Linked DNA regions of Homo sapiens. The protein of the gene in region 3 purifies or fractionates together with the protein of the main gene of each other region. This does not show direct contact. Each region holds a gene or a part of one and is shown on either strand. Other genes may lie near its edges.

What was found.
Region 1: the proteins of CASP10 (region 3) and EDA2R purify together in Homo sapiens (co-immunoprecipitation; one study listed by IntAct). This does not show direct contact.
Region 2: the proteins of CASP10 (region 3) and DEDD purify together in Homo sapiens (affinity purification with western blotting, with the first as the bait; one study listed by BioGRID). This does not show direct contact.
Region 4: the proteins of CASP10 (region 3) and DEDD2 purify together in Homo sapiens (affinity purification with western blotting, with the first as the bait; one study listed by BioGRID). This does not show direct contact.

Annotation. Positions count from the first base shown.
Region 1 is NC_000023.11:66,627,216-66,634,591, reverse strand, and holds part of EDA2R (tumor necrosis factor receptor superfamily member 27), read left to right. Parts: intron 1-7,376. UniProt on the Homo sapiens protein: Receptor for EDA isoform A2, but not for EDA isoform A1. Mediates the activation of the NF-kappa-B and JNK pathways. Activation seems to be mediated by binding to TRAF3 and TRAF6.
Region 2 is NC_000001.11:161,124,464-161,131,839, reverse strand, and holds part of DEDD (death effector domain-containing protein), read left to right. Parts: intron 1-992; 5' UTR 993-1,025; intron 1,026-6,394; exon of another isoform or gene 6,395-7,313; 5' UTR 7,314-7,376. UniProt on the Homo sapiens protein: A scaffold protein that directs CASP3 to certain substrates and facilitates their ordered degradation during apoptosis. May also play a role in mediating CASP3 cleavage of KRT18. Regulates degradation of intermediate filaments during apoptosis.
Region 3 is NC_000002.12:201,211,832-201,219,207, forward strand, and holds part of CASP10 (caspase-10 isoform 1 preproprotein), read left to right. Parts: intron 1-5,756; coding exon 5,757-5,910; 3' UTR 5,911-7,376. UniProt on the Homo sapiens protein: Involved in the activation cascade of caspases responsible for apoptosis execution. Recruited to both Fas- and TNFR-1 receptors in a FADD dependent manner. May participate in the granzyme B apoptotic pathways.
Region 4 is NC_000019.10:42,205,766-42,213,141, forward strand, and holds part of DEDD2 (DNA-binding death effector domain-containing protein 2), read right to left. Parts: intron 4,076-7,376; coding exon 3,935-4,075; intron 1-3,934. UniProt on the Homo sapiens protein: May play a critical role in death receptor-induced apoptosis and may target CASP8 and CASP10 to the nucleus. May regulate degradation of intermediate filaments during apoptosis.

The DNA.
Region 1 (7,376 bases), on a different chromosome or scaffold from region 3:
GAATAATACTTTTAGGATCCCATGACTATATGTTTTCAATTATCTGATAGCTTGAAGTTTTAACTGGTTGCCAAAGAGGAGGAAAAAAAAAACAAATGATGGAATGTGCTGTCTTATGAGTACTGAGGTGCCTGTTACTAAAGGACTTCAAGTAGAGCTGGATGGTATTTCTTTACTGGGCAAAAGGCCACTGGGACTAAGATTAATTTTAAACCTCCCTTTGACTCTAAGATTGTCAGAGTCTAAAAATGGTCTCAAAGAATGTGCATTTACATATGAGGTCATAGGCTTCTTGTTATCAGTCTCACCTTCCCTCCACAACCTCACAAAGTACTATACCTTTCTCCCTTTTCTTGGACATCTAAAGAAAAAATGAAGAAATATTTTGGCAGCAGCATTTCATTTTGTACAGACATGCCTCATTCTATAGTTCTCATTGTATTCTTCCAGTCCTTTGTTAAGGATGTGGACCTGGGTTGGGCTTGTAAATGCCCACTGGTTTGTATCTCTGCTCCTTTAGGATATTTTATTCCCAGGCCTATGAGGATGGGATGGAGTACTTGATTGCCATGGGAAAAAAAAAGAGACTGTTCTTGTTGACATCTTCAGATACAGCTATTCCAGATTGCTTGGTAAATGGGACAGGGTGGAGGGAGTGTGGGGCAAGACCAACAAACTTAATAGAAATCAGAAATTGGAGTACTTGACTGAGTTTTATCCAGTCCCAATCCTGCAAATAAATCATACCATGAATTCAATACCCAACTGGGACAACTCAGCCAAAAGCCTTCTTGGGAAGTCAGCTTATCTCCCCTTCCAGTACTGCTGGTTGAGTAACTAATTTTTTTATTATACCGTAATTTTATGGAATCTTGTGGTGATTGGTACATGACCAGTGACTCACTTTGGCTAGGATAACAGCAGAGCAAAGCAAGAGGTTTCAGGTGTTAGCTGAGTGCCGGTCTGGCTTGGGGCTTGTCTCCAATACCCTTTGTTCCCCAGCTCTGGGTGGGATAGTAACAACAATCATAGCAACTCCTCACATACGTAGCACAATCTGGAGTTTCCACAGCACTCTCACATACATTATCTCATTTTACCCTTGAACATAATCCAGGGTAGTTTCTGTGCTTTTGCTCCCACTTGGGAAGAGTATTTTAGCAGTCAGTAGAAGAACGTTTTCCCTCAAAATCAGCCTAGAGTTTGCTGTTCTTAATTTCATCCTATTTCTTTTATAATGGTATCTTTGTATTCTTGGCTACACAGTCTCTTTTCCCCATTCGTTTAACAATTATTTTTCAGCAGTTGCCAAACACTAACCAAATATTTATATTTTTAATTTACAGTCTGCTAAGTTGTATTTGTCTTTTGAGGTTTGTGCTTTGTTTGTTGTCTTTGTGCACGTACGCATGTTTTGAAGGCAAAACAATTGACTCATATGGTTAGCATTTACTTTTGGCCAAGTGGAAGTAGCCCAGTTCAGTTGGTTATTAATTTTGTCTGTACAATGACAACAGCTTTTAGTAAGGATTTTTTTTTCTTTTTCTTCCCCAGCTGGGGCTTTACCTCTTGCTCTGTGCGCTAGAATAAAAGACAAAGGAGAATAGATGAGACTTCTTTAATTTTGCGCAGGTTCATTCTCCTCTGTTGATATACTATTCCTGACATTGCTGGGCCAGATGTTGCTATCACTAACAGTTAAAATTCTTCAGCCACTTTGGAAATGTTGAAAGTAGCCCATTAAAAACTGTAGTACCCACCTGTGGTCTCTACATTATGTCTATTCCAGGCACAGATTTTAGTATACTTAAACACAAAAAGATAATTTACTTTTATCACATGCCCATGAAATAAAATAAAAATGACACATCCTCAGTCCTGGCCTCCTCCACGTCCCAGTATCAATAGCTGACACATTACTCATCCCTTACTTCTTAAAGCTTTGTCCTATTCTACTCTATCAAGGTTCTTTTTTTTTTTTTTCTTCTCTGGCTTCCCCTTCTTCGTTGCTGTCATGTATTCCTCCTCTTCCAGCTTCAAGTATGAGTGACCCTCAATGTTTGGTTCTTCTTCCTCTTTCTTCTTCCTTCCTTCTTCCTTCTTTCTTCCTTCTTCCCTTCTCCTCCTCCTCACCCTCCTCCTCCTCCTCCTCCTGCTTCTTCTTCTTCTTCTTTGTTTGAGAATCTGTCACCCAGGCTGCAGTACAGTGGCACAATCTCGGCTCACTGCAACCTCTGCCTCCAGGGTTCAAGCGATTCTCCTGCCTCAGCCTCCCGAGTAGCTGGGACTACAGGCATGCACCACCACGCCTGGCTAATTTTTGTACTTTTAGTAGATACAGTTTTTCGCCATGTTGGCCAGACTGGTCTTGAAGTCCTGACCTCAAGTGATCCACCTGCCTCGACCTCCCAAAGTGCTGGGATTACCGGCAGGAGCCACTGCATCCAGCCATTCTTCTTTACCCATGATTTAACTTCTGCCATGATTTACTTCGGCCAGTGGTTATTCCAACCCCAGAGGTTTTTATTTAATTAATCTAGAGCGTAGGATTTTTTTTTCAGTGCTCCATATGATTCTGATGTGCAGCCATAAGCAAGAACTGTTATTCTGGTGTTTTTATGCATTTGACACATCTCCAACTTCAACTTATATTTTACATATTGTATATGCTTGTTGGGCATGACCACTGAAATGTTCCTCTGTCCCCTTCAACTTCTCTATACTGAAAATAATTGAAAAACAGTGCATTTTCTTTTCTTTTACCAAGCTGCGCTCCTTTCACGCTTCTCATGGCACTTAGATTCTTCTGGTTTCCCAGGCAGAAACTCCCAGAATCTCTAACTCTGGTCATTCTGTTTGTCTTCACTTTGTAAGGTTTGTATCTCCCACCATCATTCCTCTCTGTTCCTATTGTAACCACCTTTGACCTGGCCCTTGTCTCCTAAAGCTTGGGCAGTAACCCTATCAAACCATTATTTAAAATGCACTCAGGTTAACATTAATAAAATGCTTTTTTGCCCATCCTGAAATATCACTGAAGAAAAAATTTCAGTGAAGACTGGGAGGACCTCCATTCTCTATTTTAGAGTTCAATACTGCCTTGAAAAGTGTGCCAGACTCATAGCTTCTAAATGACCTTTGGGTTCTGCCTTGCTTTTTGCTAGCCAAATAAAGATAGTTGTATATTTTCCCTCTGAGCCTCAGTATTTTTTAATCTATTAATTAAAAAAAATTCCATAGGTTATTGGGATACAGGTGGTATTTGGTTGCATGGATATGTTATTTAGTGGTGTTTTGTGAGATTTTGGTGCATCCATCACCTGAGCAGTATACACTGCACACTATTTGTAGTATTTTATCCCTCGCCCCCCTTCACTGCCTTCCCTCCAAGTCCCCAAAGTCCATTGTGTCATTCTTATGCCTTTGCATCCTCATAGCTTAGCTCCCACATATCAGTGGGAACATACAGTGTTTGGTTTTCCATTCATGAGTTACTTCACTAAGAATAATAGTCTCGAATCTCATCAATATATATGTGTATATATACATATACACACATGTGTGTGTATATGTATATATACACACAAACGTGTGTTTTTATGTACATACACACATACGTGTATATATGTATGTATACACACATACGTGTATATATGTACGTATATACACACATGTACATGTGTGTGTATATATGTATATATGCATACACATACGTGTGTGTATATATATATACGTGTGTTTGTGTGTGTGTGTGTGTGTGTGTGTGTGTATATATATATATGATTCTTTTTAGTTCTTTAAGGAATATCCACACTGTTTTCCATAGCAGCTGTACTAGTTTACATTTCCACCAGCAGTGTAGAAGTGTTGCCTGTTCACGACATCCACACCAACATCTACTGTTTTTATTTATTTTTGGATTATGGCCATTTTTGCAAGAGTGAGGAGGTATTAAATTGTGGTTTTGATTTGCATTTCCCCAATCATTAGAGATGTTGAGCATTTTTTCATATGTTTGTTGGCCATTTGTATATCTTTTTTGAAAATTGTCTATTTATGTCCTTAGCCCACGTTTTGGTGGGATTGTTTGATTTTTCTACCTGATTTTTTTGAGTTCATTGTGGATTCTGGATATTAGTCCTTTGTCAGATGTATATATTGTGCAGATTTTCTCCCACCCTGTGGTTTGTCTGTTTACTCTGCTGACTGATTCTTTTGCCATGCAAAAGCTCTTTAGTTTAATTAGGTCCCGGCTATTTATCTTTGTTTTTATTGCATTTGCTTTTGGGTTCTTGGTCATGAAATCATTGCCTAAGCCAATGTCTCGAAGGGTTTTTTCAATGTTATCTTCTAGAACTTTTATAGATTCGGGTCTTAGATTTAAGTCCTTAATCTATCTTGAATTGATTTGTGTGTAATGTGAGAGATGACATTCCAGTTTCGTTCTCCTACATGTGGCTTGCTAATTATCCCAGCACCATTTGTTGAAAATGGTGTCCTTTTCCCACTTTATGTTTTTGTTTGCTTTGTCAAAGATCAGTTGGCTGCAAGTATTTGGGGTTATTTCTGGGTTTTTGATTTCGTTCCATTGGTCTATGTGCCTATTTATATACCAGTACCATGCTGTTTTGGTGACTATGGCCTTATAGTATAGTTTGAAATCAGGTAGTGTGATGCCTCCAGATTTGTTCTTTTTGCATAGTCTTGTTTTGGTTATGTGGGCTCTTTTTTGGTTCCACATGAATTTTAGATTTTTTTTTTGTAATTCTGTGAAGAATGATGGTGGTATTTTGATGTGAATTGTGTTGAATTTCTAGATTGCTTTTGGCAGTATGGTCATTTTCACAATATTGTTTCTACCCATCCATGAGCATGGGATGTTTCCATTTGTTTGTATCGTCTATGATTTCTTTCAGCACTGTTGTGTAGTTTTCCTTGTAGAGGTTTTTTGCGTCCATGGTTAGATATATTCCTAAGTATTTAATTATTTTTTGCAACTGTTGTAAAAGGGGTTGAGTTGTTGATTTGATTCTCCACTTTGTCACTGTTGGTGTATAGGAGAGCTACTGAATTCTGTACTTTAGTCTTGTATCTGGAAACTTCGTTGAGTTATTTTATCAGTTCTAGGAGCTTTCTGAGGGAGTCTTTAGGGTTTCCAAGGTAAATGATCATATGGTCAGCAAATAGTGACAGTTTGACTTCCTCTTTACCAGTTTGGATGCCCTTTATTTCTTTCTCTTGCCTGGTTGCTCTGGCGAGGACTTCCAGTACTATGTTGAAGAGGAGTGGTGAGAGTGGGCATGCTTGTCTTATTCCAGTCCTCAGAGGGAATGCTTTTAACTTTTCCCCATTCAGTATTATGTTGGCTATGGGTTTGTCATAGATGGCTTTCATTACATTGAGGTATGTCTGTTGTATGCTGGTTTTGTTGAGAGTTTTAATCATAAAGGGATGCTAGACTTTGTTGAATGCTTTTTCTTCATCTAATGAGATGATCATGTGATTTTTGTTTTAAATTCTGTTTATGGGGTATATCACATTTATTGCCTTGTGTATGTTAAACCATCCCTGCGTCCCTGGTATGAAACCCACTTGATCATGGTGGATTATCTTTTTGATATGTTGTTGAATTCAGTTAGCTAGTATTGTGTTAGGATTTTAGTATCTATGTTCATCAGGGATATTAGTCTGTAGTTTTCTGTTTTGGTTATGTCCTTTCCTGGTTTAGGTATTAGGGTGATGCTGGCTTCATAGAATGAATTAGGGTGGCTTCCCTCTTTCTCTATCTTGTGGAATAGTGCCAAAAGGATTGGTACCAATTGTTCTTTGAATGTCTTCTAGAAATCAGTTGTGAATCCATCTGATCCTGGATTTTTTTTTTTTTTTGGTAATGTTTTAATTACCATTTCAGTATCTCTGCCTGTTATTGGTCTGTTCAGGATATATAATTCTTCCTGATTTAAGCTGGGGGGGTGTATTTTTCCAGGAATTTATCCATCTCTTCTAGGTTTTCTACTTTATGTGTGTAATGATGTTCATAGTAGCCTGAAATGACCTTTTGTATTTCAGTGGTGTCAGTCCTAATGTCTCCCATTTTGTTTCTTAATGAGGTTATTTGGATTTTCTGACTTCTTTTCTTGGTTAATCTTGCTAATGGTCTATCAATTTTATTTGTCTTTTCAAAGAACCAGCTTTTTGTTTTATTTATCTTTCGTGTGTTTTTTTTTGTTGTTGTTTCAATTTCATTTAGTTCTGCTCTGATCTTGGTTATTTCCTTTCTTCTGCTGGGTTTGGGTTTGGTTTGTTCTTGTTTCTCTAGTTCCTTGAGGCACAACCTTAGAATGTCAGTTTGTGCTCTTTTAGTCATTTCCATATAGGTGTTTAAGGCTATGAACTTTCCTCTTAGCACCACCTTTGCTGTGTCCTTTTGATAGGTTGTGTTGTTATTGTCATTCAGTTCTAAGAATTTTTTTAATTTCCATCTTGATTTTGTATTTGACCCAGTGATCATTCAGGAGCAGGTTATATAATTTCCATGTATCTGCATGGTTTTGAAGGTTCCTTTTTGAGTTGATTTCCAGTTTTATTCCATTTTGGTCTGACAGAGTGCTTGATATAATTTCAGTTTTCTTAAATTTATGGAGGCTCATTTTGAGCCCTATCATACGGCCTATCTTGGAGAAAGTTCCATGCACTGTTGAATAGGATGTGTATTCTGCGGTTGTTGGTTGAAATGTTCTGTATATATCTGTTAATTCCATTTATTCCACGGTATAGGTTAGATCTATTGTTTCTTTGTTGACTTTGTCTCTTGATGACCTGTCTAGTGCTGTCAGTAGAGTATTGAACTCCACCACTATTATTGTGTTGCTGTCTATCTCTGCTGTCAGTAGAATATTGAAGTTCGCCACTATTATTGTGTTGCTGTCTGTCTCACTTCTTAGGTCTGTTAGTAATTGTTTTATAAATTTGGGAGCTCTGGTATTATTTGCATATATGTTTAGGATTGTGATATTTTCCTGTTGGACAAGGACTTGTATGATGATATAATGTCCCTCTTTGTCTCTTTTAAGTGTTGTTGCTTTAAAGTTTGTTTTGTCTGATATAAGAATAGTTACCTCTGCTCACTTTTGGTGTCCATTTGCATGAAATGCCTTTTTCCATCCCTTTTCTTTAAGGTTATGTGAGTCCTTATGTGTTGGGTGATTGTCCTGAAGGCAGCAGATAATTTGTTGGTGAGTTTTTATCCTTTCTGCAGTTCTGTATTTCTTAAGTGGAGCATTTAGGCCATTTACATTCAATGTTAGTATTGAGATGTGAGGTACCATTGCATTCATTGTGCTATTTGTTGCCTGTGTATCTTGCTTTTTTGTTAT
Region 2 (7,376 bases), on a different chromosome or scaffold from region 3:
CCGGTGGAGAGGAGGAGAGAACAGAGTTAAGCAGCATCAGTTGCAGCCAATTCTAATTGCCAGGCCCTTAGCTTTTAAGAGGGTGGGAAGGGCAGAAGGGAATGGTCATGTGGGTTTGCAGAATTGGGGTTGGATGAGAATTCAACTGGGTTTGTTTTCCAAAAGACTCCCTAGCTTACTGTTCCCTTGTTTTTCCTGCTTGGGAAAATGGGGAAGCCGGTGTCGCCCAAGTGTGGAGGAGCAAAGGACTTTTCTAGTTTTTAGCATTAGCAATACAAGAGTGGGGGAGCAGACATGGCTATATTGGAACCCTATATGCTAAGGTGGAGGCTCTGGAAGTCTGAGGAGGGAAAGAGAAAAGATAGAGTGGCATCTAGACAGGTTAATTAAATGAGTGCTGTAGTTTCCAGACCCTTTTGCTGTTTTAAGTCTGGAAGGGAGGGGGTAACATGGATACTGTATGTAGAAAAACTTTTCCCTGGTGAAACATAGACGTATGAGTGGATGCTGCGCCATTAGATATTTTGTTCTCATTGTGTGCTAGTTAAGGGAAAGGGCCAAATGTAGAATTTGGAGGATAGTGCTGGTCTGCTGTAACCACTTTCCTCCCAGTTTTTTCTAAAGGTGAAAGTTAACGTTAATATTGTAACAAAATAGGAATAAGGAATTGTGGAGGAAGATGAGAAGCTGCCAGAGGGTAATTGGTTTTCCCAGAAGTTCTTAAATTTGGGAGCTGTCTTGCCGCAAGCCATTGAGACTGGAAATTCTTGGAGTTGGTATTGTTTTTGTAAATTGACTAATAGAGAGTTAGGGAAGCCTGGAGACTTGTTGGGGGTGAGTTCTCTAAATGGTTTTAGGCTTGTCTGTGTACTTTTGCAACGAGATTGTCTAATTCTATGGGCCTCTGAGGTTTCAAAGTAAAACTTGAAAATTAATTATTTTCCCCTCCTTATTTGTTTTTGTTTTGCTGCTGGCTGTGAAACTTGTGCTAGGAAGAGACCTGGGAAATTAAGTTTCTTGCGGAGGTAAGTCTGGAACTTTTTTATTGTTTTCAAACAATGGAAGGGAATGGAAATAGCATGGGAGTTATTTTGAGGTTGGGTCCATTAATGAGGAGGAGAATGCCAGGGAAAATGAGTTATCATTCATCCATCTGAGTGCATGAGATCTGTTGTAATCACTGTCTTTAGTTAATTGGAGATAGGAGGTGAAAGAGAAGGAGATTTAGATGTCTTGGGACAATCCCCCAGCTTTGGTTTGTTATTGTCTAGTCTTCTTGGTCAGCTCTGAAACATTTTTTTTTTTTAACATATGGAAGGCTGTATTCTAGTACATTGTCTACTAAATGTTGCCCTTGGAGGGTTGCTGGGACACCTTCCTTCCGTGGGAAACTTTTCCTCTAACTTTCTCTTTCAGCTGTTGGGGGGTTCCTGGCATCCTTCTTTTGAAAACATACTATGTAATTCTGACTTCCAGATATTTGATTACATTTCCTATCCCACCAGCAAGAATGTACTCTTAACCATCTTTAAGATTTTCTATGTAGTTTTAATTTAAGTTTCAAGATACCACTTTTTTTTGTAGTTCTTCTGCATGACTTTTCCTCTGAGGACTTCTGAGAGAGTCAGATATCTCTTAATTCTATGAAATTACAAATATCATCCCTGTTCAGAAAAGATGACTGTCATTTTCATTTCAAGACAGCACTCTTTTTTATTTCTTTCATGTCGCTTTCCCCTAAGGGCTTCTGAGAGAGCCAAGTACCTCAAAAACTACAGATATTCCTGGTTGGGATGAGACCAGACTTTGCTTGGAAGTAGAAACATAGTAGAGAAGGACCAATCAGGAGGAAATCCTGAAGATACCTATAGACTGTTGGCCCTTGGCTGACTTGGACTTCTCTAAAGAAAAAAGCAAAACTCCAGGAAATACAACAATTCCTCAGAATCAATTATTCTTGGGAAACTGTAGGGGAGAATTCATGTGTTACTATCTCAAATACAGCCAGACCAGTCAGTGGGATCAGGACTTTCTGTGTGCTGGAGTTTCGTCTCTTGGTATTTGGCAGTGTTTCAGATACCAAGACTTGAGTTAGTTCTAATTTTCTGTTCAGAGGGTTACATTCTCCTCACCATTCTGATACCTGTCATCTAGAATCTCTGTATGTTTTAAGTTGAGCTCCCTTGCTTCACTGTCACAGAAATACGAGTATATTTTGGTTTTAGAGGAAATTGGTCATGTTTTCTTTTCTAATTTTACTAATCAGCTGAACTTTCATCACTTTTTTTTTTTTTTTTTTTGAGGCAAGGTCTCACTCTGTACCCCAGGCTGGAGTGCAGTGGTGCGATCAGAGTAGCTGGGACCACAGGTATGTCCCACTATGCCCAGCTAATTTTTGTTTATTGTTTGTAGAGATGGAGTTGTGTCATGTTGCTCAGGCTGGTCTCGAACTCCTGGGCTCAAGCAGTCCTCCTGCCTTGGTCTCCCAAAGTGTTGAGATTACAAGTGTGAGCCACCATGCGAGGCCTCATCACATTCTTTTAATGTTAAAGTTAGATAGATTCTTGGAACCCTTATCTGGGTTGCATTAAGTGGAGAGGGCTGCCTCTTAACCTGCATGACAGTATCCTCATATTTCTCCCAAGCACATGGCCTTGAGGAACTTACATATTTCTATGTTTGCTTCATTGAATAAGCAATATAAGTCTGATTAGTGACCTCACAAGGAGAATTTGCTGCTCATCCAGTTCCAAGACTTTAAAGATGACCCTGAGGCTTACGAGCAGGATCCTTTGTGTCTGTCTTGCAGAGGATTACATTTCTAATATCCCCATAGAACTCCAGATTGAACTAGGTCAAAGTAGACCTCCTGGGATGGGGCAGAAGTGGATGTAGAACTACCACCTGTTCCTCAGCTGAATGGCAACAGCAGGTGACAGAGGACCCAAGGTTGGAGTGGCATGAAACACCTTAGTGCAGTTGGACTTGGGAGTTAAATGAACATGTATGTCCGACAGGCTTTTCTTTTCTTCTGGAATGTTGTTTGATGGGTTTGGATGGAGGGACCAGATGGCTTTTTCTAGATCTAGTGTGGAAAGTGACATGCATTCTTTTGACCCTTTACCATGCTCCACCTAGAATAGGGTTTCTCATCCTTGGCATTATTGACATTTTGTGCTGCATGATTCTTTGTTGTGGCAGACTGTTCTGTGCATTACAGGATGTTTCTTTTTTCTTTTGAGACAGGGTTTCACTCTGTCACCTGGGCTGGACTGCAGTGGCGCTATCACATCCCACTGCAGCTTCGACCTCCCAGGCTCAAGCGATTCTTCTACCTTAGCCTCCCAAGTAGCTGGGATCACAGGTGCATGCCACCACGCCAGGCTAATTTTTATATTTTGCATAGAGATGGGGTTTCACCATGTTGTCCAAGCTGATCTCAAACTCCTGGGCTCAAGTGTTCCTCCCACCTTGGCCTCTCAAAGTGCAGGGATTACAGACGGGAGCCACTGCACCTGTCCTATAGGATGTTTCTAAATATCCCTGGCTTCTACTCATTACATGCTGATGGCAGTCCCCTTCCCCACCAGGCATAATAATCAGAAATGTCTCCAGACATTGCCACATATTCCCCAGGGGTCAAATTTGCCCCTGGTTCAGAACCACTGACCTAAAAGCTATTATAATTCCTAGTACATTGATGATCTAGCCTGGGATCTAGGACTTAAAGGTGGCTAGTGTGTTTGTTTCCTCTCAAATGTAGGGAGTTAACTTCAAAGGATTGAAGCTTATAGAATTACATCCATTGATACATAATTAGGACCACAGTGCTTTCCTGTATTTTGCCTTATTTTCCATTGCGAGGGTATGTGGGGACAGTGTTTCTTCATTTCCTGGGGTTTAAGCACACTTTAAATTAGGGAACTGTGGAGCAACCAGCTCTTCTGGTTGGTTTAATGTGAAACCTACCCAATCTGCTTTATCTGAGAGCCTCACAATCAACAGCTGGCCCAAGGGAACAGGTGGGATAGGGAACAAAGAGAAGTTGCAGGGGCTCTGAGGAGGCTCAGTTTTCTCATGTTGCCTGCTATGAGCAATAACTTATTTTCCTTTAGCACCTTCATTTGTACCCAGTAACAGCAACAGGTGAATCGAGAGGAAGAGGCAAGGAATACCAGTCTATAGTTGAATAGCTATTTCCCATGCTTTGGGTGGGGCATCTGGGCTCTCAAAACTATATATGGATTACATTTCCTGTCTACATATCAGAACCCATGGTATAGGGTTAAGTGATCCCAGAGTGTACCTCCCCTTTTCTTAAGGGAATGAGTTTCTCTGTGCTTTCATTTTAGTTTTTCATCTGAGGAAGAAAGGACCAGTTCCTACTTACTCTTCAGCTTTCTCTATCAGCTTTGTTTTTCCAAAGAAGCTTATTATTTTATTGTTTCCTAGTCTAGCCTCAGTTCCTTTTTGTATAAAATGGACAGAGCAACCTGTTTAATTGTTGAGTAGGGTAGAGTGGTGTGGTATGGTGTGGGTAGTTCTGGACATTGCAGAGGAGGCTATGGCTAGTTAGAATATATGCATGGTAACTGAATTACCTGTATCTGTTTTTAATGGGGTCCTCTCTTGGACTTTTGTGAATTTGTTTCTTAATTGGAATTGCTTGAGGTGATCTCTTGGAGATTAAGTTCAGTTCAACAGTGGGTTGCTCCCACTATATTTGAGGCTCTGTCCATTACTAGGCACTAGGGATATAAAGATGAATATATCTCTCCATGAGTTGAGTAGGATCTAATGGGATAATAAATACACAAATAATTTTAGTACATGGTGATAAATGGTGTAAAGGAGATATGCATAGTGTTCCATAAGCGCACAGAAGAGGACTACTTATCTCTGCATGGGGGTGTAGAAAATGCATTTTGAAGATGGCATCTGAGCTGACTCTTAAAGAATGAGTAGGAGTTAGCCATCTGAAAAAGAGTGATGATGGGGGTGTGGAATAGAGAAGGGAGAGGGGCATTCAGGCAAAGAGAAGAGCCTGAAGAAGGTATAGAGAAATTGCATGATGTATGTGAACTATAAACAAACTGATAATGTTAGAGAATAAAAAGCGGATGTGATGGGAAATGAGGTTGGGAAGGTAGGCCTGATCTTAGAAGGCTTGATGTGTGTGTAAAGAATTTGGAGTGTTCGGCCAGGCGTGGTGGCTCACACCTGTAATCTCAGCACTTTCGGAGGCCGAGGCAGGCGGATCACAAGGTCAGGAGTTCGAGACCAGTCTGGCCAATATGGTGAAACCCCGTCTCTACTAAAAATACAAAAAGTAGCTGGGCGTGGTGGTGGGTGCCTGTAGTCCCAGCTACTCGGGAAGCTGAGGCAGGAGAATCGCTTGAACCTGGGAGGCGGAGGTTGCAGTGAGCCAAGATCGCGCCACTGCACTGCAGCCTGGGCGACAGAGTGACTCTGTCTCAAAAAAAAAAAAAAAAAAAAGAGTTTGGAGTGTTCTTATAGATAACGATGGGGCAATCAATGGGTCTGAAGCAGGAAAGTGACTTGGTCAGTTGTGGACTTCAGACAGCTAACTGAACTAGATGTGGCAGTGGATGGATTTAGGTAGGTTAAGATTGGTGTTGCAGAGAACTTTTAAAGTTACAGTAGTCCAGGTGAGAGATTATTGTAATCTGAACCATGGCAGTGGAGGTGGAAAGGTAGGATAGATTTAAGAAATATCTAGAAGTAGCATTAACAGGAATTTAGGATTGATTGTGTGATTGGAGAGTGTGACCAGAGAGTGCACAGTATAGGATGGTACTGTCTGGTGGAGCAGTAAGTATGAGTGACTTGAGTCAAAGTTGTTGAATTTGGGAATTGATTAATGGCTGCGTCATTGGTATTACCTGTAGCCCATAACGATGGAGGAACTTTGTGAATCAAGAGCCAAACTATATAACGAATGTGGAGCTGTGATTGGTCATTGATAGGGGATTGGTAAATGACATCCATGAGGAAAGCTTAGAAGGTGGTATTGCCAAGGCCAGGTACGGTGGCTCACGCCTGTAATCCCAGCACTTTGGGAGGCCGAGGTGGGTGGATCACCTGAGGTCAGGAGTTCAAGACCAGCCTGACCATCATGGTAAAAACCCATCTCTACTAAAAATACAAAAATTAGCAAGACGTGGTGGTGCGTGCCTGTAATCCCAGCTACTTGGGAGGCTGAGGCACGAGAATTGCTTGAACCTGGGAGGCGGAGGTTGCAGTGAGCCGAGATTGCACCACTGCACTCCAGCCTGGGTGACAAAGTGAGACTCCATCTCAAAAAAAAAAAGTTGATATTGCCAAATAGGGTGAAGATCAAGGGAGTACAAATGGCATAGAATTACAAGAATGCTTATTGTAGAAACTTAATGTTTATTTTAAATCCATGAGTTTTGGTAAATATTGATAAACTTTCTGAGCAGTTATCATTTCTTGATGTGGTTGGATTGTAGGAAAAATGTGGAGGGATGATTCTGGGCTGCAAAGGCCAAGGATGCTTGTATCTTTGAAATGTTTCACAACCATTTATATAAGGGTTACCCGTGATTTTCTCATTGGATTCTTAACAACTCTGAGGTGTATATTCATTCATCCCTGTTTATAGATGACAGCACTGAGAATCTGGAGTTAAGTGACTTGCTTACGGTCACACAGCTACACAGCCTTTCAGTGATACAGTCAGAATTTAAACTAGTTCTTTTTTTTCCGAGATGGGGGACTCACTCTGTCACCCAGGCTACAGTGCAGGATTATGGCTCACTGCAGCCTTGAACTCCTGGGCTCAAGTGATCCTCCTGCCTCAGCCTCCTGAGTAGCAGGGACTACAGGCACATGCCACCATGCCTTGCTAATTTTTTTCTTTTTTGTAGAGATGGGGTCTTGCTATGTTGACCAGGCTGATCTTGAACTCCTGGCCTCAAGCCTTCCTCCCACCTCAGCCTCCTGTGCAGCTGGGACTACAGGCGTGTACCACCAAGCCCAGCTAATTTTTTCTTTTTTTGTAGAAACGGGTCTCCCTATGTTGCCCAGGCTGGTCTTAAACGCCTGGGCTCAAGTGATCCTCCTGCCTTGGCCTCCCAAAATGCTGGGATTACAGGTGTGAGCCCCTGTGCCTGGCCAGTGTTTATTTTTAAACAAACACTTCAAAAATTTAATAAACATGTATAAAGCACTATACTGTGCCAGGCATTGTTAGCAACTGGGAATATGGGAATGCATGAGACTAGTTCCTGCCCTTGAGTGTCTCATCGGTTCTTTCCCTGCCCTTTCAGTACGGTGGGGATTGCAGCTGCTGAGCAGGGATTCTGGAAAGCATTGCGTACCTGAGCCCCCAG
Region 3 (7,376 bases):
ACCAACAGTGTGTAAGTGTTCCCTTTTCTCCAGATCTTTGCCAATATGTGTTTTCTTTTGTTTCCTCGATAATAGCCATTCTAACTTGAGTGAAGTAGCATCTCACTGTGGGTTTTTTATTTTTATTTTTATTTTTTTTTAGACAACATCTTGCTCTGTCAGGCTGGAGTGCAGTGGCGCAATCTCAGCTCACTGCAGCCTCTGCCTCCTAGGTTCAAGCAATTCTTCTGCCTCAGTCTCCCGAGTAGCTGGGATCACAGGCATGTGCCACCACGCCTGGCTAATTTTTGTATTTTTAGTAGAGACAGGGTTTTACCACGTTGGCCAGGCTGGTCTGGAACTCCTGATCTCAAGTGATCCACCCACCTCAGCCTCCCAAAGTGCTGGTATTACAGGCGTGAGCCACGGCGCCCAGCTGTCACTGTGGTTTTGATTTGCATTTCCGTGATGATTAGTGATGTTGAGGGGTGGAAGCGGGTAAGTAGGAAAACTCCCACCACAACTATAGTGCTAGAGTGAAGTAGGGCTGAGACTGGGGTTGGGCCTTCCAAGGCGGAAGGAAGTCAGGGGTGGAGGCCAAGTTGGGCTGATTTTCCTGCTGCTGCTAAGAGAAAACCAATTAATGGAAGAAGGTTGGGGGTAGGGTTAAGGATAAGTATTTGTTGAGGCTCTCATGTATTGGATGATGAGAGGAATCATGCTATAGCTAAAATAAAGCCAATGTCACCAATGCGATTGTATAGAATTGCTTGGAGGGCTGCTGTGTTAGCATCTGCTTGGCCATGTCATCAGCCAATTAGTAGAAAAGATATAATTCCTACACCCTCTCATCTGATAAAGAGTTGGAAAATGTTGTTGGCAGTAACTAGAATTAATATTGTGGTGAGGAAAATAAGTAGGTATTTGAAAAACTGATTAATGTTCAGATCTGCCTTCATATATCATATTGAGAATTCTATAATAGATCAAGTGATAAATAGTGCTACTAGAATAAACATTATGGAGAATTAGTCTAGTTTGAAGCTTAATGAGAGTTTTAGGGTTTGGATTGTTATTCAATATCAGTTTGAGATGATGGTTTCTTGGTCTGTACACATAAATGTTGTGGGAATGAGGCTAATGGTGAAAGTGCATGCGACAGCTATTTTTACATAGTATGGATATGAGTTCTTTTTGTGAGGGTTGATAAAGGTAATAATAATTGGTAAGGTTAAGGAGATTAAGGTTATTATAGTAATGGAAAAATACATGATTATTACTTTTATTTGGAGTTGCACCAATATTTTTGGTTCCTAAGACCAATGGATAACTCTCATCCTCTAAAAGTTGAGAAAACTATGTTGTTAGGCATGGAGGCATGAGTTAGCAGTTCTTGCAAACTTTATCGGTAAATAAGAAGTTGCGGACTTCTATTATTAGACCACAATCTAACATTTTGATTAAACTATATTTACAAGGTATAAGTCCTATAATAATTTTAGGATTTAGAGATAGTAAGAGAATTGGTGAAAGGTGTATGAGTATTAGTATGTTTTCTCGTGTAAAGGAAGGTTTAATGCTGTTAATATAGTATGTTAGTGTTCCTTGTTGTGTTGTGACAAGTATATAGAGGGAATAAAGGGCTGTGATTAATATATTAAGTCCTATAAGCATGATGGTAGTGTTTGATCAGGAGAATGAAGCCGTTGTTACAAGGAGTTCTCCTACTAGATTAATAGTGGGGGGTAGGGCAAGGTTGGTGAGATTTGCTGTAAGTCATCAAAAGGTTACTAGTGGAAGTAATGTTTGACGTCCTCGAGAGAGTAATATGATTCAGCTGTGGATTCACTTGTAGTTTGAATTTGCTAGGCAGAATAGTAGGGACGAAGTAAGTCCATGGGGAATTATGAGGATAATTGCACTGGTAAAACTTCAGGGGGTTTGAATGAGGATAGCCACAGTAACAAGTACCATGTGGCTTACGGAGGAATGTGCAATAAGTGACTTTAGATCAGTTTGTCGTAGACAGATGGAGCTTGTCATAATATGCCTCATAAGGATAATATCAGGAAAGGATAGGCTATATGTTCTGTCAGAGGGCTGAGGATGAGGGTAAGTCGCATTTTGTGTAGCCGCCCAATTTTAGGAGCACTGCTGCAAGTACTATTGAGCCAGCCTTAGGTGCTTATACATGGGCTTTGGGAAGTCATAGGTGAAGTCAGTATAGGGGTATTTTTACTATGAAGGCCATTATACATGCCAATCACATGAGATTGTTGGATCAGGAGATTGGTAGTTCTTGATATTAAATGTTATTATTATCATGCTCAGTGAGCCTAGGATATTTTGGGCATAAATAAGTGTAATAAGTAGGGGGAGGGATCCCACTAGTGTGTAAAATAAGAGATATGTACCTGCATTGAGGCGTTCTGGTTGGTTACCCCATCGGGTGATAATAATTAAGATAGGGATAAGTGTAGCTTCAAAGAGAATATAAAATATAATTAGTTCTGTGGCTGTAAATGCTATGATTAGAAAAATTTGTAGGGAAATTAATATGGAAATACAGGGTTTTTTCCATAGGGGTGATTCACTGGAGAGGTGGTACTGGCTTGCTATAGTTATAAGAGGTAGTAGTCAGGCTGTTAAGATTAGAAGGGGTGATGTTAGCGGATCAGAGGAGAAAGTTAATGAGAAGTTGAATAGATTGTCGTTGAATTAGTTAAAGAATAATAGGGCAATGAAGCTGGTGATTAGGCTGTGGGTAGCCATATTGATTCAAATTGTATAATTTTTAGAGAGTCATGTTATTGGTAGTAGTATAATTGTAGGAATAGTTATTTTTAGCATTGAAGTAAATTTAGGTTATGTATGTAGTCTAAGCCATATATGTTGGAAATTGAAAGTAGCAAAGCAAGGCCTACCCTGGCTTTGCAGGCAGCAAATACTGGTAGAGTAATGGGTATTACATTTGCTAGGGTGAAGTGTATATTTAAAGCTATAAGGGTATTTACTATGAATAATGATAATATTATTCCTTCTAGGCATAGGAGGGATGATATTAGGTGGGACTGATAGACTAATACCCCCAGAAGTGATATGATAAATGCTAATATGATACTTATGTAAATAGAGGGCATTTGGTAAGTATGTTCTATCATAATCTAATGAAATCATTTATTTTGCCTTAAACTACTTATTTTTTTCTTATACCTGTGGACCATTTGTATGTCTTCTTTTGAGAAATGTCTGTTAAAGTCTTTTGCCCATTTTTAAATGGGGTTATTTGTTTTTTTGCTGTTGAGTTATTTAAGTTCCTTATGTATTCTAAATATTAACTCCTTGTGAGATGTATAATTTGCAAATTTTTTTCCTATTTTGTAGGTTGTCTCTTCCCTCGGTTTTTTTTTTTTTTTTTTTTTTTTTGCCGTGCAAAAGGGTTTTAATTTGATGTAAACTCATTTGTCTATTTTTGCTTTTGTTGTCTGTGCTTTTGAAGTCTTGTTTTAAAAATCCTTGCCCAACCCAATGTCATGATATGTTTGCCCTGTTTTCTTGCAGCAGCTTCATAGTTTCAGGTTTTACATTTAAGTCTTACACATTTTGAGTTGGTTTTTGTTTATGGTGAGAGGTAAGTGGTTAGTCTCATTTTTCTGTGTATGGATATTCAATTTTCCCAGCACCGTTTTTTGAAGAGATTCTCTTTTACCTATTGTGTGTTCTGGGCACCTTTGTCAAAAATCAGTTGGCTGTAGGTGTGTGAATTTATTTCTGGGATCTATATTCTGTTCTATTGATCTATGTGTCTGTTTTTATACCACTACCATGCTGTTTTGGTAACTCTAGATTTGTAGTATATTTTGAAGTCAGGTGGTGGGATGCCTCCAGTTTTGTTCTTTTTGCTCAGCATTGCTTTCACTATTTGGGGTCTTTTGTGGTTCCATATACATTTTAGGGTTTTTTTCCCTATTTATGTGAAGAATGTAATTTTTTTGTTTGTTTTTGTTTTGTTTTGTTTTAGAGATGGGGTCTTGTTATGTTGTCCAGGCTAGACTTGAACTCCTGGGCTCAAGCAATCCTCCCACCTCAGACTCCTGAGTAGCTAGGACTACAGGCATTTGCCACTGCACTTGGCTTGTCACTGGTATTTTGATAGGGACTGCATTAAATCTGTAGGTCACCTTGGGTAGTATGGTCATTTTAACAAGATTATTCTTCTAACCCATGAACACGAGATATCTTTCCATTTATTTGTGTCCTCTTCACTTTCTTTCATCAATGTTTTATAGTTTTCAGTGTTTAATATTTAAGTTAATGATATTTTAATTGTTTAATATTTATTTAATAATTTTATTATTCAATTATTATTTAATATTAATTTAAATAATATTTAAATTAATAAGAAAAAATTAGCCAGGTGTGGTGGCATGCACCTGTAGTCCTAGCTATTAGGGAGTCTGAAGTGGGAGGATTGCTTAAGCCCAGAAGTTTGAGGCTGTAGTGAACTACAATCGCATTACCGCATTCTAGCCTGGGCAACAGAGCGAGATCCTGTCTCTAACAAAAAGAGGCAATTTCAGGAAGTGATCCCTGCCATGAACAAATCAAAACAGGATAATGGTAGTTTCTTGGTGGAGGTAATATTTCAGGTGAGACTAAATGATAAGAAGGAAACAGACACAGGAAGATTTGGGAATAGAGAGCAGGTGCAAAGCAAGATGCAGGGATTGAGAGCAGGTAAGGGCCTGCATCCCTTCCCTGAAAAATAGTGATAGTTAAGGATGAGGGGATGAGAGTAGTCATACTAATACTAAAAATGATGGTCAGCAGAACAGTGTAGCCAGTGTTCTAAGTGCTTGACCCAATATACATCCTTTAATGCTCTCGGCAACCCCTAAGATGGGGACTGTTATGGTTCCTATTTTAGAGCTGGGAAAACCGAGGCATGGAGCAGTGAGTAACCAGCCTAAGAGCACACAATGAATGAATGATGGAGCCACAATTTAAAATTGAATGTGTTTTCAGAACCTGTGCTTGCTTCCAGTGATATGTATTGCCTACCCTGAGAACGTTCTGCTAAATGCTATATGTCCTGCAAGCCCAGGCTCAAATGCTACCATCTGCATGAAGCCTTCTCTCTCCCTCCCAACCAGAAATGCATTCTCCTCTGAACTTGCAGTGGAACCTTGACCTTTCATTTGGTGTTGACCACATTCTGCCTTGTGTTATGAATATTGTGTATATGCCATCCTCGGTAAATGTTTCATATCTGCATTCTAAGTGGTTAACTTCAGGAATTGTGTCATGTCTATCTTTGTATCTCTCCCAAGACTACAGATAGAGAGGGCATTGTTGGTATCTGTGGCATCTGCTGCATATTTGTTGATCTAAGACCTGGTACATGGTACCTGGTGTCTTTTCTAAGACCTGGTGTGTGGTTTCTACCTCCTGACTGAAAAAAGTTTCTTCTCTGGGCCAGGCACAGTGGCTCATGCCTGTAATCCCAGCACTTTGGGAGGCCGAGGTGGGTGGATCACCTGAGGTCAGGGGTTCGAGACCAGCCTGGGCAAGCAATATGGTGAAACCCCATCTTTACTAATTAGCCAATTGTGGTGGCAGGCACCTGTAATCCCAGCTACTCGGGAGGCTGAGGCATGAGAATCACTTGAATCCAGGAGGTGGAGGCTGCAGTGAGCTGAGATCACACCACTGCACTCCAGCCTGGGCGACAGAGTGAGACTCCGTAAAAAAAAATTTTGTTTTCTTCTTTGTTGCAGACATGAAGACATCTTATCCATCCTCACTGCTGTCAACGATGATGTGAGTCGAAGAGTGGACAAACAGGGAACAAAGAAACAGATGCCCCAGCCTGCTTTCACACTAAGGAAAAAACTAGTATTCCCTGTGCCCCTGGATGCACTTTCATTATAGCAGAGAGTTTTTGTTGGTTCTTAGACCTCAAACGAATCATTGGCTATAACCTCCAGCCTCCTGCCCAGCACAGGAATCGGTGGTCTCCACCTGTCATTCTAGAAACAGGAAACACCGTGTTTTCTGACACAGTCAATTCTGATTTTCTTTTTCTTTTGCAAGTCTAAATGTTAGAAAACTTTCTTTTTTTTGGAGATAGTCTCATTCTGTCACCCAGACTGGAGTGCAGGGGGGCAATCACGGCTCACTGTAGTCTCGACCTCCCAGGCTCAAGCTGTCCTCCCGCCTCAGCTTCCCAAGTAGCTGGGACCACAGGTGTGTACCACCGTGCCCGGATTTTTTTTATTCTTTATTTTTTGTAGAGATGGAGGGATCTCACTTTGTTGCACAGGCTGGTTTCAAACTCCTAGGCCCAAGTGATCCTCCCACCTCTGTCCCCAAAATACTGGGATTATAGGCACGAGCCACCACACCTGGCCAGAAAACTTTCATTATTGAAGACTTGGATTGTAGCCTTGGTTTTGGATGTCTATTCTGAAGACAGAGTAATTGGCTTTGGTTTGTGCAGGTACTTTTTCTTTGAGACAGAGTCACTCCGTCACCTGGGCTGGAGTGCAGTGGTGGGATCACTGTTCACTGCAGCCTTGACCTCCCAGGTTCAAGCGATCCTCCCACCTCAGCCTCCCAAGTAGCTGAGACTACAGGTGTGTGTCCATGCACAGCTAACTTTTTATTTTTTTTGTGGAGATGGGGTTTCACTATGTTGCCTAAGCTGGTCTCAAACTCCTGGGCTCAAGCGATCCTCCCACCTCAGCTTCTCAAAGTTCTGGGACTACAGGCATGAAATACTGTGCCTGGCCTGGGGACCAGGTGCATTTTAAGGTTCCTTGGTGTTCAAAAACCACGTTCTTAGCCTAGATTGAGCTTAGATTGCCTCTCTAGACAACTACCCCTTAGTTATAATTCTGTGTCCCCTCTGCATGCCCTTAAACATTGGACAGTGAGGTCACAGTCCACCCACCCTCTCTCTGATCTCCCCCTTCCTAAGACTTCTCTTTTGCACATCTAGTGAGGTGAAAATTTGGTCTATGCCAGGCCCATTTCCTGCTTTTGTGTAAGGAAGGTGCTCACATAGGAAGTTTTTATTTGGTTAGAGACAGGTTTCCCTGTAGGAAGATGATGGCTCATTTACACTCAGCTGCTCTGCAAGCAGAAACTTTACAACCTGATGTCATATTCCATTTTGGACTGGGTGCGGTGACTCATGCCTGTAATCCCAGTACTCTGGGAAGCCAAGGCAGGCAGATCACTTGAGGTCAGGAGTTCGAGACCAGCCTGGCCAATACGGCAAAACCTCATCATTACTAAAAACACAAAAATTAGCCAGGTGTGGCGGCGAGCACCTGTAATCCCAGCTACTCGGGAGGCTGAGACAGGAGAATCTCTTGAATCCAGGAGGCAGAGGC
Region 4 (7,376 bases), on a different chromosome or scaffold from region 3:
TCTACTTTGGTGTATTTTCCATAGAAAAAATTGCAGGGGCCAGGCGGTGGCTCATGCCTGTAATCCCAGCACTTTGGGAGGCCAAGGCAGGTGAATCGCTTTGAGCTCAGGAGTTCGAGACCAGCCTGGGCAACAGGGCAAGATCCTGCCTCTAAAAAAACACACAGAAATTAGCCAGGCATGCTGGATCACGCTTGTAGTTCCAGCTACTCAGGAGGCTGAGGTTGGAGAATCACTTGACCTGGGAAGCGGAGGCTGCAGTGAGCTGAGACTGCGCCACTGTGCTCCAGCCTGGGCGACGGAGACCCTGTCTCATAATTTAAAAAAAAAAAAAAAAATTGCAGGGGAGAAGCAAAGCTGATCCTGTCATTCAAATCCTCCAACTGCTTTCCATAATAAAAAAAAAAAAAATGCAAAGCCCAGGCCCTGCAGGATCTGCCCTGGTTCCCTCTCCCGCCCTCACCTCCTAGGGGTCTCCACCCTACTCCTCCATTCCTGTCAGTTTCCTTGCCATCCTCCACGCTGCCCTTGAGCACTGGCACATCCCACTTGGGCCTGTGCTCCCGCTGTCCTCTCCATCGGGAACACCCTTCCCCTGACATCTGAAATCTCTCTCTTGGCTTTCTCCCACCACAGCACAAGCTCAATGAGGGCAAGGTCTCCCACCCCGGCTGACCTAGCATATAGTAAATACCCTATAAATACATATGGAATAAACAAATAAACAAACCCAAGTTTCAGCCAAGCTCTGCCCCCTGCCACTCAGACTAGTGACCGCCTTTCCCTGATCGTGCCTCTTCCTTTGCAAGATGTCATCCCACCTCAATGGCTGTCTTGAGAATTCAGGGCCGAGTAGTGCCCACCACAGACCCTGAGAGGCACATGGTCGCTCAGATGTCCTGTGTCCAACCCTAGGACCACCAAGGTGTCCTTCCTCACTGTCTCAGGCAGTCGAGAGTTTGTCTAGTTCTATCCCTCAATGGAGGGCAGCTGGCTGGGGGTCACAGGTATCACAGGTGAGGAAGAGTCAAGAATAGCAGGCCTCTTCTTCAGTCAGGCCTCCTTCCACCTCTGGCATTCGGCCTCTCTAAAAAGTAAGCCATTCCATTTTTCAGAGGGAAAAACAGGAGCCCAGATGGGGAGAGCCTCACTCCAGCCCCACCCTGCCTGGTGAGTCAGCAGTCAGACCTGCTCACCCATCTCCCATCAAGACCTAGCCAAGCCCTGGTTAACGACCTCCTCGCCTCGGGAAAGAGACCTGAAGCCTCCCTTGGCCTGTTCCTATCTTCCTTGAGGCAATGACTCCCTCACCTGCCCAGCCAGCCTGGTGGCTCTGGGAATTACTGGCTGATTCGAGGGGGAGTCACCACCAGGCAACCACCCCCTCAAACCCTGCCGCGCAAGCCCACATAGCTGCCTGAGGACCCAGGGCTGGCTCTCTAGGTCTGTTCCTTCTGACAGCACCCAGCACAGGTTATCTGCTGCCTCATCTACAAAGCAGGCATGATGCCCACTCCCTGGAGGGCCATTATGGGCACTAGGAGGGGGCAGGTGCGCGTGCTTTGTGGGCTGGAGAAAGCTCTGCAGATGGTAGAAGGAAGCACCCCCAGGCCAAGGTCTCCTAGAAGACAGGACATGCCAGCATCTCACCAGCTCCAACTTGGTCTTCTGACCTCCAGCTTCCACAATGGCCTCCTCCCCTGAACCCTTCCACTCCCCCCAGGGGCCTCCTCCCCTCCCTCAGCAGCCTCAGCCCTTTGCAGGGGCTCGGCACCACCCCTGGCCTCATGTTTCATTAGGGCACTTGTCACTAGCTGATGCCGTCTGCTACGCTGGCTTATTTTCGAGTTATCTGTCTTGCCCACTATAACGTAAACTCCTGGAGGCTGAGGACTTTCTTCACCTGGTCCAATTCTGAGCCCTCCGTGCCTGGAACAGTGCTTGGCATAAAGATGATCCTAATAAAAACTGGATGAAGGAATTAACAAACCCTTCCATGGCTCCCTCACCCACCACCCCCTAGAATAAAATCCAAACCAAGGCCCCCCACCTGCCTCATCTCCCCCTGCTCCCACCCACAAAGCCTCTGCTCCAGACAGACTCAGCCCTGACCACATCCGGCTGGGGACGTTGTACGCATGAGTCACTCTGCCAGAATCACCCTTCCCAGCTCCTCTTCCAGCTTCCTTGAGCTTGTTCTAGACATGGCACCTCCACAAGGAAACTGGGGCTGGCCAGGAGACTCCCTGCACACCCCAGAGCCCCTGCACTCACAATACCCGTGCCACCTGTCACATCAGCCTGGCTGCCACTTCCCTCATCTGTCTTCCCTGCAGCCTGAGAGCTCGAAGACCATATCTGATCCCTTCTGTGTTTCCCAAGCTTGCCCAACTAGAGAAAGGAGTACTACAGTTGAGGCGGTGCTCATTGCTGTGTCCTCCCCACATGACCAAGTGGAATTTCTCAAGAGCAAGGTCAAAGTAGTCTCACAGCAGAGTCCCCAACCCACCCAACCCATCGTGTCTACAGTCAGCCCTATGGCCAGTGCCCTTCCTTATTTCCTAGGTCACTTCTCCTCACCCTCTCCAACACGACCCCCAGGCCAGACCTCTGCCTAGTCCTTCTCCACAGACCTCACAGCCTCTTCAAGCGATTAATTTAATCTACGTAACACATGCCTAGCAGAGCACCTACTAGAAGCCCAGTGCATCCTAAACACTTTGAAAACCCTAACTTGCTTATTAACTGATTTTCCAGATGGAGTTAGAGTTCCCTGAAGAGGAATCACATCACGTCACCCTCCTGCTCAAAACCCACTGCCAGTGCCTGGCGCATGGAATAAAATCCAAACTGTCATCCCTGCCGTGGCCCGCGAGGCCAAGCTGCTCCGGCCCCAGCCTGGCTCCTCCACCTGCTCCCACCCTCTCTTGGTGGCACTTATCATTGTCTAAAATGATCTTCAGTTTCACTGGTCACCTGACTAGGTCAGCTCCACAAGAGCCGGGAACCTTGCTGCAGCACTCCTGCCCCAGGCACACTGCACAGCAACAGTGAGAACAAACCCTCGTACAGCGTGTGCCGGGTTGGGCACTGCTCCAGGCATACTGTGGGTAAATTTGTTTTCTCACAACAATCCAAACAGGGAGGTGATTATCAGCCTCACTTTACAGATGTGGAAACTGAGGTGGATGGCTGGGTGCGGTGGCTCACGCCTGTAATCCCAGAACTTTGGAAGGCTGAGGCGGGTGGATCACTTGAGGTCAGGAGTTCAAGACCAGCCTGGCCAACATAGTGAAACCCATCTCTACTAACTAAAAATACAAAAATTAGCTGGGCGTGGCAGTGGGTGCCAGTAATCCCAGCTACTTGGGAGGCTGAGGCAGGAGAACTGCTTGAACCCAGGAGGCGGAGGTTGCAGTAAGCCAAGATCACACCACTGCACTCCAGCCTGAGAGACAGAGGGAGATGGCGTCTCAAAAAAAAAAGAAAAGAAAAGAAACGAAACTGAGGCAGAGAGGTTCAATTACTGGCCTGAGGTCAGACAACTTATTTAAGTGCCAAGACCAGGATGTAAATCAGGCAGCCTGATCCAGGATCGTTGTTTTTTTACCCCGTGATATGCTGCCACTGCACAAGAAATGTCTGAATAAGTAAACCCCGGCAGATGTTTGCTGAATACACAAATGAAACTAGGGCAGGGGGTTGTCAGGAAAGGCTTCCTGAAGGAGGTGGCACAAGATCTGATCCTTCAACAATGGACAGGATGTAGACAGGCAAGATGGCGAGAGAAAGGACAAGAATTCCACTGTGGTGAACGAGAGCTGACACCCATCTGCCAAGTGTGTCACATCCCCCAGAAAAATGCTCATTTCTCCCACCCTCTGAACCCACCCGGGGCACTCTACATGCATTGCCAAAGCCTACAGACACCTACCACAGGTCACTTTGCCTTCAGAGGAAGGTCTGGCGGGCTCTGACTGCTGCTGGGGTGCGGCTGGGGCCCCTCTCCGCCGCCGTCTGGCACCACCACTGGGCCGGCCCCGACTCCGCCGCTGCCGCTTGGTTGGGGGGGAGCCTGAGGGGAAAAAAATGGGGCAAGTTGAGGACCAGGATGACAGCTAGAGTGCCCAGGTGTATGCCTGGAAAAGAACTCAAGGTGTTCTCGGTGCTGAGACCCTGAGTGAGCCAGTCTGCCTCCCTTCTTCAGTGGCCCTGTCTAAAAGATGAAGAGTACCATCTAGCATCATCTAGAAGGGCAAATGAGTACACCCCAGCACGCTGCAGCAGGCTCACTCCAGGTGTGATGTGACCCTAGAGAAATCCCTGCACACTTACACCAGGAGACACACACGACAACCGCCACCAGGGCATTGTTTATCATGATGAAAACCTGAGAACAACATATCTGGCAAGAAGAAACAGGAATATAGGGAGATGTCCAGGATAGACTGTTTAAGGAAATAAAGCAAGATACAAAATAAGTGTCTACAGTGTGCTGTACTTTGCATAAGGAGGGAAATTAAGATTATATATATCTGCAAAATGAAACACTAGAAGCACAGACTAGAAATGAATGAATTGGGGGTGAGGGGCACCCAGCAGTAGAAATGACATGTCTAAAAATACTTTTCATACTTTTTTTTTTGAGACCGAGTTTCGCTCTTGTTGCTCAGGCTGGAGTGCAATGGCACAATCTTGGCTCACTGCAATCTCCGCCTCCCGGGTTCAAGCAATTCTCCTGCCTCAGGTTCCCAAGTAACCGGGATTACAGGTGTCTGCCACGACAACCGGCTAATTTTTTGTATTTTAAGTAGAGATGGGTTTCACCATGTTGGCCAGGCTGGTCTCAAACTCCTGACCTCAAGTGATCCACCCGCCTCGGCCTCCCAAAGTGCTGGGATTATGGGCATTGAGTCACCAAGCCCAGCCCCACACTTTAGTTTTGACTTTTGACTCATATAACTGATTTACACACTTAAAAAGTTAAAATGAAATAAACCATAAAATTAACACAAATAGGCCGCACACGGTGTGGCTCCCGCCTACAATCCCAGCACTTTTGGAAGGCCGAGGTGGGTGGATCACTTGAGATCAGGAGTTCGAGACCAGTTTGACCAACATGGTTGAAACCCTGTCTCTACTAAAAATACAAAAATCAGCTGGGCGTGGTGGCGCCTACCTGTAATCCCAGCTACTGGGGAAGCTGAGGCAGGAGAATTGCTTGAACCCAGGAGCTGGAGGCTGCAGTGAGCCGAGATTGTGCCACTGCACTCCAGCCAGGGTGACAGTGTGAGACCCTGTCTCAAAAAAAAAAAAAAAAAAAAATTAAACACAAACAGAAGAAAATGAACCTGGTCGGATGTTGTGGTTCATGTCTGTAATCCCAGCCTACGCCCTAGGAGTTCAAGACCAACCTGGAACCCGGGCAACATGGAAAAACCCGTCTCTATTAAAATAAAATGTAAAAAAATTAGCCGGGTGTGGTAGCACGTGCCTGTAGTCCCAGCTACTTGGGAGGCTGAGGTGGGAGGGCTGCTTGAGCCCAGGAGATCTAGGCTGCAGTAAGCAGTGTTTGCGCCACTGGACTCCAGCCTGGGAAACAGAGCTAGACCCTCAAAGGGAGAAGGGAGAAGAAAAGGAAGGAAGGAAGGGAGAGAGGGACGGAGGGAGGGAGGGAGGGAGGGAAGGAGGAAGAGAGGGAGGGAGGAAGGGAGGGAGGGGATTGTATACATAATTGGTAACAGGAATACTCAGATGAAACAATTATTCAAGTAACTTGAAGAACATTCTGACTGTAAAATCTCAATGGGATATGCTCAGAGAACAAGAAACACAAATAAAATCTATGTTTCATTCACTAGATACAGTCAGCAGTTGTACTGACTTTGTTATTTTGATGCTATTTAATTACTGTTGTAAAATAAATCAAACAAACCCACATCTTAATGTTATTAAGAGGAAAGACTTTTAGTATAAAAAAGTCTGGCTGGGGCTGGGTGCAGTGGCTAACACCTATAATCCCAGCATTCTGGGAGGCCGAGGCGGGCGGATCACCTCAAGTCGGGAGTTCGAGACCAGCCTGACCAACATGGAGAAACCCTGTCTCCACTAAAAATACAAAATTAGTCGGGCGTGGTGGCACATGCCTGTAATCCCAGCTACTCAGGAGGCTGAGGCAGGAGAATCGCTTGAACCCGGGAGGCGGAGGTTGCGGTGAGCCGAGATTGTGCCATTGCACTCCAGCCTGGGCAACAAGAGTGAAACTCTTTCTCAATAATAATAATAATAATAATAATAAATTAATTAATTAAAAAGTCTGGCTGGGAGCAGTGGCTCACACCTATAATCCCAGCACTTTGGGAGGCCAAGGCAAGCAGGTCACCTGAGGTCAGGAGTTCGAGACTAGCCTGGCCAACATGGTGAAACTGCGTCCCTACTAAAAATACAAAAATCAGCTGGATATGGTGGTGTGTACCTGTAGTCCCCGCTACTCAGGAGGCTGAGGCAGGAGGATCACTTAAACCTGGGAGGCAGAGGTTGCAGTGAGCTGAGATGGCGCCACTGTACTCCAGCCTGGGTGACAGAGTGAGACTCCATCTCAAAAAAAAGTATTTGTGATGTTTTTGTTTCTTTGTTTAGAGTGGGGATCTCGTTCTGTTGCCCGGGCTGGAGTCCAGTGGCATGCCACCACACCCGGCTCGTTTTTTTTTTTTCTCTGAGACAGGGTCTTGCTCTGTCACCCAGACTGGAGTGCAGTGGCATGATCTCAGCTCACTGCAACCTCCACCTTCCCAACTCAAGCAATCCTCCTACCTCAGCCTCCTGAATAGCTGGGACTACACGTGCACATCACCATGCCAGGCTAATTTTTATATTTTTTATAGAGACAGGGTTTTGCCATGTTGCCCAGGCTGGTCTCAAATGCCTGGGCTGAAGCAGTCCACCCGCCTTAGCCTCCCAAACTGCTGGGGCTACAGGTGTGAGCCACTGCACCCGGCTAGGTTTTTTATCTTTTTAGACACAGGGTCTTACTATATTGCCCAGGCTGATCTCGAACTCCTGGCCTCAGGCAATCCTCCTGCCTCAGCCACACAAAGCACTAAGATTACAGGCATGAGCCACCAAACATGGCTATAACATTAATCTTTAAAATACTAACAGAAACTTTTTGAAAAGTCAAGTCTCTAACACTGTTCACTGAAAGAACCTAGAACAATATACACACTCAACACCCAGGTTTTGGTCTCTAAATACCACAGCTTCCTTGAAAAACAGCTGATTCTAGGGTGCGGAAGGGAAAGTTCAAAGTCAGCCCAGGACATCTTGCAGTGCCACAAAGCAGGAAGCACACAAAGAATGATACAAACACATGAAGA